Linked DNA regions of Homo sapiens. The protein of the gene in region 3 purifies or fractionates together with the protein of the main gene of each other region. This does not show direct contact. Each region holds a gene or a part of one and is shown on either strand. Other genes may lie near its edges. The genes, in order: PCSK9, SMOC1 and TCTN1.

Evidence for each region.
Region 1: the proteins of TCTN1 (region 3) and PCSK9 purify together in Homo sapiens (affinity purification with mass spectrometry; one large-scale study listed by BioGRID and IntAct). This does not show direct contact.
Region 2: the proteins of TCTN1 (region 3) and SMOC1 purify together in Homo sapiens (affinity purification with mass spectrometry; one large-scale study listed by BioGRID and IntAct). This does not show direct contact.

What each region holds. Positions count from the first base shown.
Region 1 is NC_000001.11:55,049,548-55,053,047, reverse strand, and holds part of PCSK9 (proprotein convertase subtilisin/kexin type 9 isoform 1 preproprotein), read right to left. Parts: intron 1,857-3,500; exon of another isoform or gene 1,595-1,856; intron 771-1,594; coding exon 637-770; intron 402-636; coding exon of another isoform or gene 399-401; coding exon 257-398; intron 1-256.
Region 2 is NC_000014.9:69,882,191-69,885,915, reverse strand, and holds part of SMOC1 (SPARC-related modular calcium-binding protein 1 isoform 1 precursor), read right to left. Parts: intron 635-3,725; exon of another isoform or gene 1-634. UniProt on the Homo sapiens protein: Plays essential roles in both eye and limb development. Probable regulator of osteoblast differentiation.
Region 3 is NC_000012.12:110,620,574-110,624,298, reverse strand, and holds part of TCTN1 (tectonic-1 isoform 1 precursor), read right to left. Parts: intron 1-3,725. UniProt on the Homo sapiens protein: Component of the tectonic-like complex, a complex localized at the transition zone of primary cilia and acting as a barrier that prevents diffusion of transmembrane proteins between the cilia and plasma membranes.

The DNA.
Region 1 (3,500 bases), on a different chromosome or scaffold from region 3:
GAAAGGTCATTGACCCAGGGTCAAGGCTGAACTCCCTGGGCTACCTGCATGACCCTCTTGGGGCCTGGGTTTCTTCATCTGCACTCGTGGCCACTGGGAACCCTGCCAGCCTTGGCACTCTGGTTCTCTGGCTCTGCGGCAGAGGCTGCCACAGCATTCTTGGTTAGGAGACATTAGCTCTCCCTGGGCCCAGCCCAAGCCACCTCCCAGGCCAGGTCCAGATGGAGAGAGACCAGCGTCTGGGGCCATCACTTACCTATGAGGGTGCCGCTAACCGTGCCCTTCCCTTGGCAGTTGAGCACGCGCAGGCTGCGCATGCTGGCACCCTTGGCCACGCCGGCATCCCGGCCGCTGACCACCCCTGCCAGGTGGGTGCCATGACTGTCACACTTGCTGGCCTGCTCGACGAACACAAGGACCACATGAGAAAGACCCCCCCTCCACCCTATAACAAATCAGCAGGTGGCTGGATGGATGAACGCCCTTCCCACAACTGATGGCAGGGAGGGGACAGTGACAGCTGGGGGGGGTGCAACCCAGGAGTACAGCTGCAACGCTCTGGGGTGGCAGTCCCCACCCACCTCCAGGATGGGGATATGGGCAGAGGCAGCCCTCCCATCAGACGGCCGTGCTTACCTGTCTGTGGAAGCGGGTCCCGTCCTCCTCGGGCACATTCTCGAAGTCGGTGACCATGACCCTGCCCTCGATTTCCCGGTGGTCACTCTGTATGCTGGTGTCTAGGAGATACACCTCCACCAGGCTGCCTCCGTCTTTCCAAGGCGACATTTGTGGGAGAGGAGGGAATGAGCATAAAGTCAACCTTATAGTTAACACACAGAAACTACAGAGCACATCCCAGGCACTGGTGAAAGCGCCTTAAATATATTCACTCGTTTAACCTCCAAAAAATCCTCACACACTACATCCTATTCTATAATGTATTTCATAGACAAGGAAAGGGAGGCCTAGAGAGGGCAGGTAACTGTCCAAGGCCATCAGCTGGCAATGCTACTGCCAAGAAGGACCCAAGTCATCCTGCTCCTTCATATGAATATCAATATCTAACAATAATATGAATGTTCAAAAAATAGTATCAAAGTGTAAAATAAAGCCCCTATTATAGCCTTTCACAGCTCACCGAGTCTGCAAGAAAGACAACAAGATTTAAAGACTCAAAGGAGAATAACAGTGATGTCTGGCCACCTGCGCTGGCCGGCTCATTTTAGAGACAGGAAGCTGCAGCTCGGACAGGATGTATGTCTGGGCCTCCTGGCTCCAGGTCCAAGCGTTCTCCACTCCACAAGATACCAGGAGGGCTCACGGGGACTGCTTCTGCCTCACACGAGTCACAACCTCAGAGAAAACAGTCACCGAGCGCCTACCCTACACTTTATCATCCCTAACTGGATCAGTTTGGATTCTCCAAGAAGCAGGCACTGGGGTAAAAGCTGCAAGAGACTCACTGGGGGAGTCGCCCATGCAGGACAAAGGTTAGGGTATAGGAGAAAGTAGGGAGAGCTCACAGATGCCAGGCAGGTCCAGCCTGCTGGATGGAGAAGGGAGAGAGGAAGAAAGGAAGCAAGGAAGGAAGCACCTCCGCTCCAGCGCAGGTCTCAGAAACTCTCAGCCAGGCCAAAGGAAGACTTCAGGCAGGTTGCTGCTAGCAGAGTCCTGCGCCAGCGGAAATGGCCTGGCCCTGGAACCCCTGCAGCCAGGAAAAGCAGGGCCTCAGGTGGAATCAGAGGGCAGCCCTCTGGGCTGTCAGTCAAACTGCTCCTGCCCCAGGGTCTCCTGAGTCTTCTGAAGTGCCATCTGAACAGCACCTCTGTGGCCCCCGCAGTGATCCTCCAAATATGCTGCAGAGTAGAGATTCTCATCTCAGGACAGGTGAGCAAGTGTGGGAGGCTCAGGGCGTGTACCCACTTCTTATGGCTTCGGTCACAAATTCCCAGACTCAGCAGCGAAGGCTCTGGGAAGAACCCTGCCTCACGTCTTCCGGCTTCTGGTGGCTGCTGGTGTTCCCTGGCTTGTGGCCACATTTCTCCAATCTCCACCTCTGTCTCCACGTGGCCCCTCCTGTGTGTGTCAAATCTCCCTCTGCCTTTCTCTCATAAAGACACATCACAGGACTTACAGCCCACCGCATAATCCAGATGATGCCATCTTGAGATGCTTAATTACATCTACAAAGACCTTTTCTCCAAATAAGGTCTGGCTCACAGGCTCTGTCTGGGTGTGTGTATCTGTGGGGGCCACTATTTAGCCCCCTACAGAGCAATTCAGTGGCTGCTCTGAGATCCCACATGAATTTCAGGCAAGGTCGGCCCCCAGTCCCGCATCCTCCCACCCACCCACTATGCTAGTAGGTCTGGGCACAGTCCGAACTGTGAGTCCCCAGCCTGCACACACACTGTCTACCCTGCCCTAAGGCCTCCAGTCTCGGCAGGAAGCTCCACTGATCAGTCCCGTGGGCACTTTGGTTTCTTCTGTAGCATGCTGAGCAGGTCCTTGGCAGTCTGCCTCTCCTCCCAGGCTGTGGGATGAGGCGGAGTCCTTGCTCTCTGAGTGTGTTAGGAGCTTTCACTCATCAATAGGCATCTACCATGTGCCCGGTGCTACACTGGGAAGGGGTGGCTGAGAGCGCTGTGAGCTCCGACCTGAAGACATCTGGAGACCAAACAGTGCTCGCCACCCTAGAGGAACCACTAGATATTGAGCTGGGCTATGGAATGTCGAAGGGGCAGACACAAGACAAGGCCAGCAAGGTGGGCAGAGGCCAGATGGTGCCAGGCCCATAAGCCATGCTCAGTCTGCTCCTAGCAGAGGCCCCGGGCTGGCTGCAGGGGATACAGGTGCTCAGGAAGCAGCCCAAGGTTTTCCCTCAGAGCTTCCAGGCTGACGGGACAACTGGATACATTGGCAGACAGCCCGGGGAATACAGGCTTATCTAGAAGACAGCACAGAGGCTGCTTCCCTCCCTGGACGTAAGCCACACAACGCACATCGAGCAGAAGGCCTGCTGGGCAGGCTTCCAGTCCATGTTCCTCGTCGTGTGTGAGGAGGGAACTGAGGCTGCAGCTGAGTTAGCCCAGGTGAGAGTCCTTTCTGGTCCCACCCGTGCTTGGGACCACCATCTGCTCCAGGAGCTGTACCTGGGTTCTGCTGCAAGATGATGTGACCACTGTGGGGTCCCATCCCTGGGCCTGGGGTGTGGCCCCAGCGGCAGATGGAAGCTCGGGGAGGCAGCCCCACACCTTCTAAGTGCAGGCGGTTCCTGCCCGCTCACACCAGCCCACTGTCCTGCTGGGACAGGGTCAGGAGGCTGCAAGCATGGCCAGCAGAGGGCAGGTGGGCCTGGTAAAAGCCCCCACAGGAACATCCTTGGGCTTCCTTCCAGTGAGAGGCTGGAAAGGGGCCCAGCTCGGATGAGACACAGGGCCCTTCCTAGGCCTCCCTCTATCTTCCAAACCCCCGGGTGAGGCAGGGGCTGCTAGTTCCCT
Region 2 (3,725 bases), on a different chromosome or scaffold from region 3:
GTGCCTCCTGCGATTAACCAGTTCACCCAGGCCCTGGACCGCCAAACAGCTACTCAGCTGCTTAAGCTGGCCCACAAGTACAGGCCAGAGACAAAGCAAGAGAAGAAGCAGAGACTGTTGGCCCGGGCCGAGAAGAAAGCTGCTGGCAAAGGGGACGTCCCGAAGAAGAGACCACCTGTCCTTCGAGCAGGAGTTAACACTGTCACCACCTTGGTGGAGAACAAGAAAGCTCAGCTGGTGGTGATTTCACACGACATGGATCCCATCGAGCTGGTTGTCTTCTTGCCTGCCCTATGTCGTAAAATGGGGGTCCCTTACTGCATTATCAAGGGGAAGGCAAGACTGGGACGTCTAGTCCACAGGAAGACCTGCACCACTGTCGCCTTCACACAGGTGAACTCAGAAGACAAAGGCGCTTTGGCTAAGCTGGTGGAAGCTATCAGGACCAATTACAATGACAGATACGATGAGATCCGCCGTCACTGGGGTGGCAATGTCCTGGGTCCTAAGTCTGTGGCTCGTATCGCCAAGCGCAAAAAGGCAAAGGCTAAAGAACTTGCCACTAAACTGGGTTAAATGTACACTGTTGAGTTTTCTGTACATAAAAATAATTAAAATAATACAAATTTTCCTTAAAAAAAAAAAAAAAGAAGTTGTTCGAAGGAGAGAGTAATCGTTCCTAAGCAAAAAGAATGCTCTGTAGAAAAGTTCCTAGAGAGTAATGTTGGAACTGGGTTTTGAAGGATGAATCAAGTGATCAAGAGGTGAGAGAAGAAATAACAAATATCTAAAACATTTAAGAAATAAGTTTCAGGTTGAAGAATACACAAATGAATGGAAAGAGATGTCACGTTCATGAATTGGAAGAGCAAATGTTGTGAAAATGTCTATACTTCCCAAAGCAATCTACAGATTCAGTGCAATCCCTATAAAAATACTAAGATGTTCTTCATAGAAATAGAAAAAAAAACCCTAAAATTTTTGTAGAACCACAAAAGACCCTGAATAGCCAAAGCAAAGTAAAAAGTAACAAGAACAAAGCCAGAGGCATCACACTATATGACTTCAAAATAAACTACAAAGCTATAGAACCAAGACAGCATGGTAATGGCATAAAAACAGACACATAGACCAATGGAACAGAAGACAGAGCCCAAAAATAAATCCACGCATTTACAGACAACTGATTTCAACAAAGGTACCAAGAACACACAATGGGGAAAGGAAAATCTTCAATAAATGGTGTTAGGAAAACTGGATATCCACATGCAGAAGAATGAAATTAGACCCTCATCTCTCACCATATACAAAAATTGACTCAAATGAATTAAAGACTTAAATGTAAGATCCAAAACTATGACACTATTAAAAGAAAACATAGGGGGAAAGCTCCATGACTTTGGTTTGGGGACCTCAAAAGCACAAGCAACAAAAGCAAAAATAGACAAATGAAATTATACCAAACTAAAAAGCTTCTACACACCAAGGAAAACAATTAACCAAGTAAAGAGATAACCTAGAGAATGGGAGAACATATTCACAAACTGTATATCTGATAAGGAGTTAATATGCAAAGTACACAGAGAACTCAAATCACTTAATAGCAAAAAAAACAAAAAACAATGCAATGAAAAAATGGGCAAAAGATCTGAATAGGTATTTCTCAAAAGAAGACATAGAAATGGGCAATAGGTATATTTAAAAATGCTCGGCCGGGCGCGGTGGCTCACGCCTGTAGTCCCAACACTTTGGGAGGCCGAGGCGGGTGGATCATGAGGTCGGGAGATCGAGACCATCCTGGCTAACAAGGTGAAACCCCGTCTCTACTAAAAATACAAAAAATTAGCCGGGCGCGGTGGCGGGCGCCTGTAGTCCCAGCTACTCGGGAGGCTGAGGCAGGAGAATGGCGTGAACCCGGGAAGCGGAGCTTGCAGTGAGCCAAGATTGCGCCACTGCAGTCCGCAGTCCGGCCTGGGCGACAGAGCGAGACTCCGTCTCAAAAAAAAAAAAAAAAAAAAAAAAAAAATGCTCAACATCACTAATCATCAGGGAAATGCATTCAAACCACAATGAGATACCACCTCACTCCAGTTAGAATGGCTATTATCAAAAAGACAAAAAACAACAAGTGCTGGTAAGGATATGGAGAAAAGGGAGTTCTCACATACTGTTGGTGGGAACATAAATTAGTACAGCCATCATGAGAAACAGTAAAAACATTCCTCAAAAAATTTAAAGCAGAACTAGCATATGATCCAGCAATCTCACTGCTGGACATTTATCCAAAGGAAATGAAATCAGTATGTTGAAGAAATACCTGTTCTCCCATGTTTATTGCAGCATTGTTCACAATAGCCAGGATATGAAATCAACCTAATTGTCTATCAGTGGATGAATGGATAGAGAAAATATGGTATATATACACAAGGAATACTATTCAGCCACAGAAAAGAATGAAGTCCTGTCATTTGCAACAATGTAGATGAACCTGGAGGACGTTAAGAAAAGTAAGCCAGCCACAGAAGGACAGATACTGCATAATCTCACTCATATGTGGAATCTAAAAAAATTGGTCTCATAGAAGTAGAAAGTAGAACAGTGGTTACCAGAGGCTGAGGAAGGAAGAGGGGAGAGGGAAAGGAGAGAGGTTGGTCAAAGGGTACATAATTATAGTTAGAGAGGAGTAATAAATTCAAGAGATCTATTCAAAGTGACTATAGTTAATGACAAGTTATTGTATCCTTGAAAAATGCAAAGAGTGGATGTTAAGTGCTCTCACCACAAAAATAATAATTATGCGAGGTAATGCTATCATTAATTAGCTAGATTTAACTATTTCATAATGTATATATACTTCAAAACATCATATTGTGCACAATAAATACATACAATGCTATCTGTCAAATTTAAAAAATAAAAATCCATTTCTGACTCAGACCTCTTGATCTTCGCATCATCTCCTATTTCTCACACTTCTTAAATCTAGTTCCTGCCTCCAGTCAAAGTGGAACCTGTAATCACTCTCAAACACACATTATCTGCATTTATTTGTTCATTCCATCAGTACCAACAAAGTAAATCTTGACAGGTGTCTGGCCCCTTGCTGAGCTCTGGAGATAAATCCCTGGACAAGACAGAAACAGTTCCTGCCTTCACCCAGCTTTCCATCTTCAAGGGAGACACAGAATTTAACAAAGACAGGCAGTTGGCTTGACCATCGGCCAGACACCATCAGCCAGGGAGAGCCCCTCCCCCATCCCATCCTCCCCTGAAACATTTTCAGTAAATTGTGCAGGATTAAAGAAACGGCTGCCTCCTCAGTGATTAAAAGAATCCTGACCAACGTCCCAGCTAGCCAAGCAACCACTCACAGTTGAGAGACCCCAAAATCAGGTGCTTCCTACATAATAGCCTCCAATCTGATACTCGATAGCCGCTGGTTTCCAGAGTCAAACAAATGTCAAGAATTTTATGAAGGAAGGCAGGAAGCAAATAAGGGGGCGAGGACTGGGGTCTAGGCCTCGGGGGAGCTCAATTAGTGAGCCAGATAAAGTTAAACTGAAAGGGCATGCTCTTGGTTTCCTAGAAAGCCAGCTGGAAAAGATGCCAATCCTTAAGCCTCTGTCACTCAAAAGATTAACAGAAGAGACTTAGGAGCGCCCACAGGGAATAATGCAACAAGCCAGATGTTTCTGCTCCTCGGATGACGCCGCTCTCAACAACCA
Region 3 (3,725 bases):
GGTTACAGTGAGCTATGATCGTGTCACTGCACTCCAGCCTGGGTGACAGAGCAAGACCTATCTCAAAAAAACATAGAGGCTGGGCACAGTGGCTCACGCCTACAATGCCAGTACTTTGGGAGGCCATGGCAGGAGGATCACTTGAAGCCAGGATTTCAAGACCAGCCTGGGCCACAAAGTGAGATTTTGTCTCTAAAAAAAAAAAAAAATAGACAGATAGCTGGACAGACAGATAATAGTATAGAGATAGTCATAATAAAAATGGGACCATATTCTACATACTGTTTTAAGGCTTTTCTCACTTAATATATAATGCCTAATATGCACTTACAATATTATAAGTGGCTTCATCATCGTATACCAGCCTATTAATACCCCAATTTGTTTAACCAATATAGATATGGATATGGTACAGCCCAAGCACCGTGGCTCATGCCTGTAATCCCAGCATTTTGGGAGGCTGGGGAGGATCACTTGAGGCCAGGAGTTCAAGACCAGCCTGGGCAACACAGACCCCGATCTCTACAGAAAACAAAGAAAAAATTAGCCCGGCATGCTGGCAGATGCTTATAGTTCTAACTACTTGGGAGGCTGAGGTAGGAGGACTGCTTGAGCCCAGGAGCAAGGTTACAGCGAGCTATGATCGTTGGTTTAGGTTTAGGTTTCTAATTTTCCCCAATTATATGTAATGCTATAATGACAACCTTATACATACATCTTTATGACTGTCTCCAGTTGTTTCCTTAGGATATGTTTCCTGAACTGGAACTGCTAAACCAAAAGGCAGGTAACATTATTTAAAGCTTCTGAGACACACTCCCAGATTGCCCTCTAGAAGGGCACAATATACATTCTCACCAACACTGTAGTAAGAGTGCCTATTTCCCTGTACCCTTGCCAAGACTGGATATTATCATTCCGTTTTTACTGGGCCTTAAAGGATAAGTAGAAATCAGACAGACAGTAGGAATGGGAAGCAAATCCAAGTGCAAGAACGGCAATGGCCAAGGCTGGGTAACGACTCATGGTCTTTGGGAAACTCTGAGTACCAAGGTTGGGCTGGAGTGGATTTGAGATGGCTGGTAGCAGGTGATAGGCTCTGAAAGAAGGTGGGAATGAATCTGAATCCAGGCTAAGAAGCCTATAGATAATGAGAACTTCTGAAGGTCTTTTAGTGAGTGCTTGACAGGATGAGGTGTGAGCTCATAAAGCAGGAGCAGGGATGGACGACCACGAGGGCTAGAGTGATGGAAGGCTCCACAGAATGGGATTCCTTACTCCCCTCCAGTCAGCCACCTCCCCAATCCTGTGCAGTATTTCAGTATCATCATCAGATCTAGATACTTCTCCCTAGCCCCACTGTCACAGCTTTTGGGGAGGATGGGGAGGGAAACCGTTAATCCGCATCTGCAATAGCTTTTTACTTGGTTCTCTGCCACCAGGCTTGGCCTTGTGATCCACTGCATATGATGCTGCAGAATTACATAAGATGGGAATCTGATCCTCTTACAACCCAGGCCCTGTGGACTTCAGGACAGAGTCCAAACCCCTTAGCATATACACAAGGCCCCTGGGGACCTGACCCCTGATCTCTTTCCTACACTCCTCTCACCCCACCCCTCTTCTGGCCACACTGAGTTACCTGCAGTTAAGCAGGCCATCCCACATCCCCCCATCTCTGTCCACGCAGTTCCCTCTGCCTGGAATGCCCTTCCCCTCAGTCCATGCTGACCATCTTCCACGTGTCCTTCAGGACCCAGCTCAGCTCCTGTTTTCTGGGGAGCATTCCTTAGTGGGGCTGAGTTAGATGCCATTCCTCTGCCTTCTCATCGTGCTTGATGTAGAAACTGCCATCCACTCCTCTGTCTCCCTTACTCGACGGTAAGCTCTTTGAAGGCAGGAGAGTGCCTAACTCATCTTTATGTCCCTGGTGCTGGCATTCAGGAGGTACTCAAGAAAGGTTGGGAGAAAGGAAAGACTGCTGAGACAGGAAAAGGAAAGGAAGAGGCAAGGGTCAGGGGAGCCTCCAGGTTTTTGGCCTGGTGTCGGCCTAAAAGACTAATGGTAGAGGAAGTCAACAAGGGACACTAGGAAATCAGTTAGAGGTGGAAGGGAGAAATTCATTCATCCATTCAACTCATTATTATTATTATTATTTTTTTTTATGGAGTTTCGCTCTTGTTGCCCGGGCTAGAGTGCAATGGTGCGATCTTGGCTCCTGCAACCTCTGCCTCCCAGGTTCAAGCGATTCTCCCACCTCAGCCCCCTGAGTAGCTGGGATTACAGGCACCCACCACCACGCCCAGCTGATTTTTGTATTTTTAGTAGACACGGGGTTTCACTATCTTGGCCAGGCTGGTCTCAAACTCCTGACCTCAAGTGATCTACATGCCTCAGCCTCCCAAAGTGCTGGGATTACAGGCGTGAGACACCATGCCCAGCCAATTCAACTCATTCTTAACGAGGGCCCACTATGTGGCAGGAGCTCTACTAGGTACTAATGGTTAAGGAGAAAAGAGATCTTCCAGGTTAGGCGCAGTGGCTCACGCCTGTAATCCCAGCACTTTGGGAGGCCGAGGTGGGCGGATCACGAGGTCAGAAGTTCAAGACCAGCCTGGCTAACACGGTGAAACCCTGTCTCTACTAAAAATACAAAAAATTAGCTGGGCATGGTGGCACACGCCTGTAGTCCCAGCTCGTTGGGAGGCTGAGGCAGGAAAATTGCTTGAAGCCAGCAGGCAGAGGTTGCAGTGAGCCGAGATGGAGGCACTGCACTCCAGCCTGGGCAACAGAGCAAGACTCTGTCTCAAAAAAAAAAAAAATAGCCCCAAGTTGGAGCAAAAATGTCACTTTCAGGCTCCTGTATTTACTAAAGGGAGGAAAACAGAATGACTTTCAACAAATACTGAAACATGCTACAGGCCAGGTAGCCAGAAAATTAATCTGACTACATTGCCCTGTTCTCTGAGCATTTTTACAATACTAGAAATAGGCTCAAAATCCCATTGGTCAATAAAATAGTTTCTCACAGGAAAAACCCATTGTACTTCTTAAAAGGGTTCACCTATCAAGTATCAATTGCTAAAACTTGCTATAAGGCTAAATTTAAATTAGCTATCTCTGAATACTAAGTTGGTCCCATCCTGAATTAATGAGCCTCTTCTAAGTGCTCCTAGTTTTTCAAAAAGCCTTGAAGCTGGGCGCGTTGGCTTACACCTGAAATCCCGGCACTTTGGGAGGCCAAGGAGGGCGGATCACCTGAGGTCAGGAGTTCGAGAGCAGCCTGACCAATATGGTGAAACCCCACCTCTACTAAAAATACGCCAGGCATCGTGGCGTGCACCTGTAGTCCCAGCTACTCAGGAGGCTGAGACAGGAGAATTGCTTGAAGCCAGGAGGCGGTGGTTGCAGTGAGCCACTATCACACCACTGCACTCCAGCCTGGGCAACAGAGCGAGACTCCATCTCATAAAAAAAAAAAAAAAAAAGAAGCCTTGAAACCTCAATTATAAGAGATCATTCAGAACAGATTATTTATTTACCTTATAATCAGCTGGAAATGTCATTTTTCATTGTTCTATACAATGCGAACTGTGAGAATTCCTGGTAGATTTACATATCAGAAAAGTACAGATTTCTTATCTAATTTTTTGTTACAAATACTATGTCCACAACAAAAGCTGTGAAATTAAAATGCACTTTTCACCCTAGGCTATACTAATTCA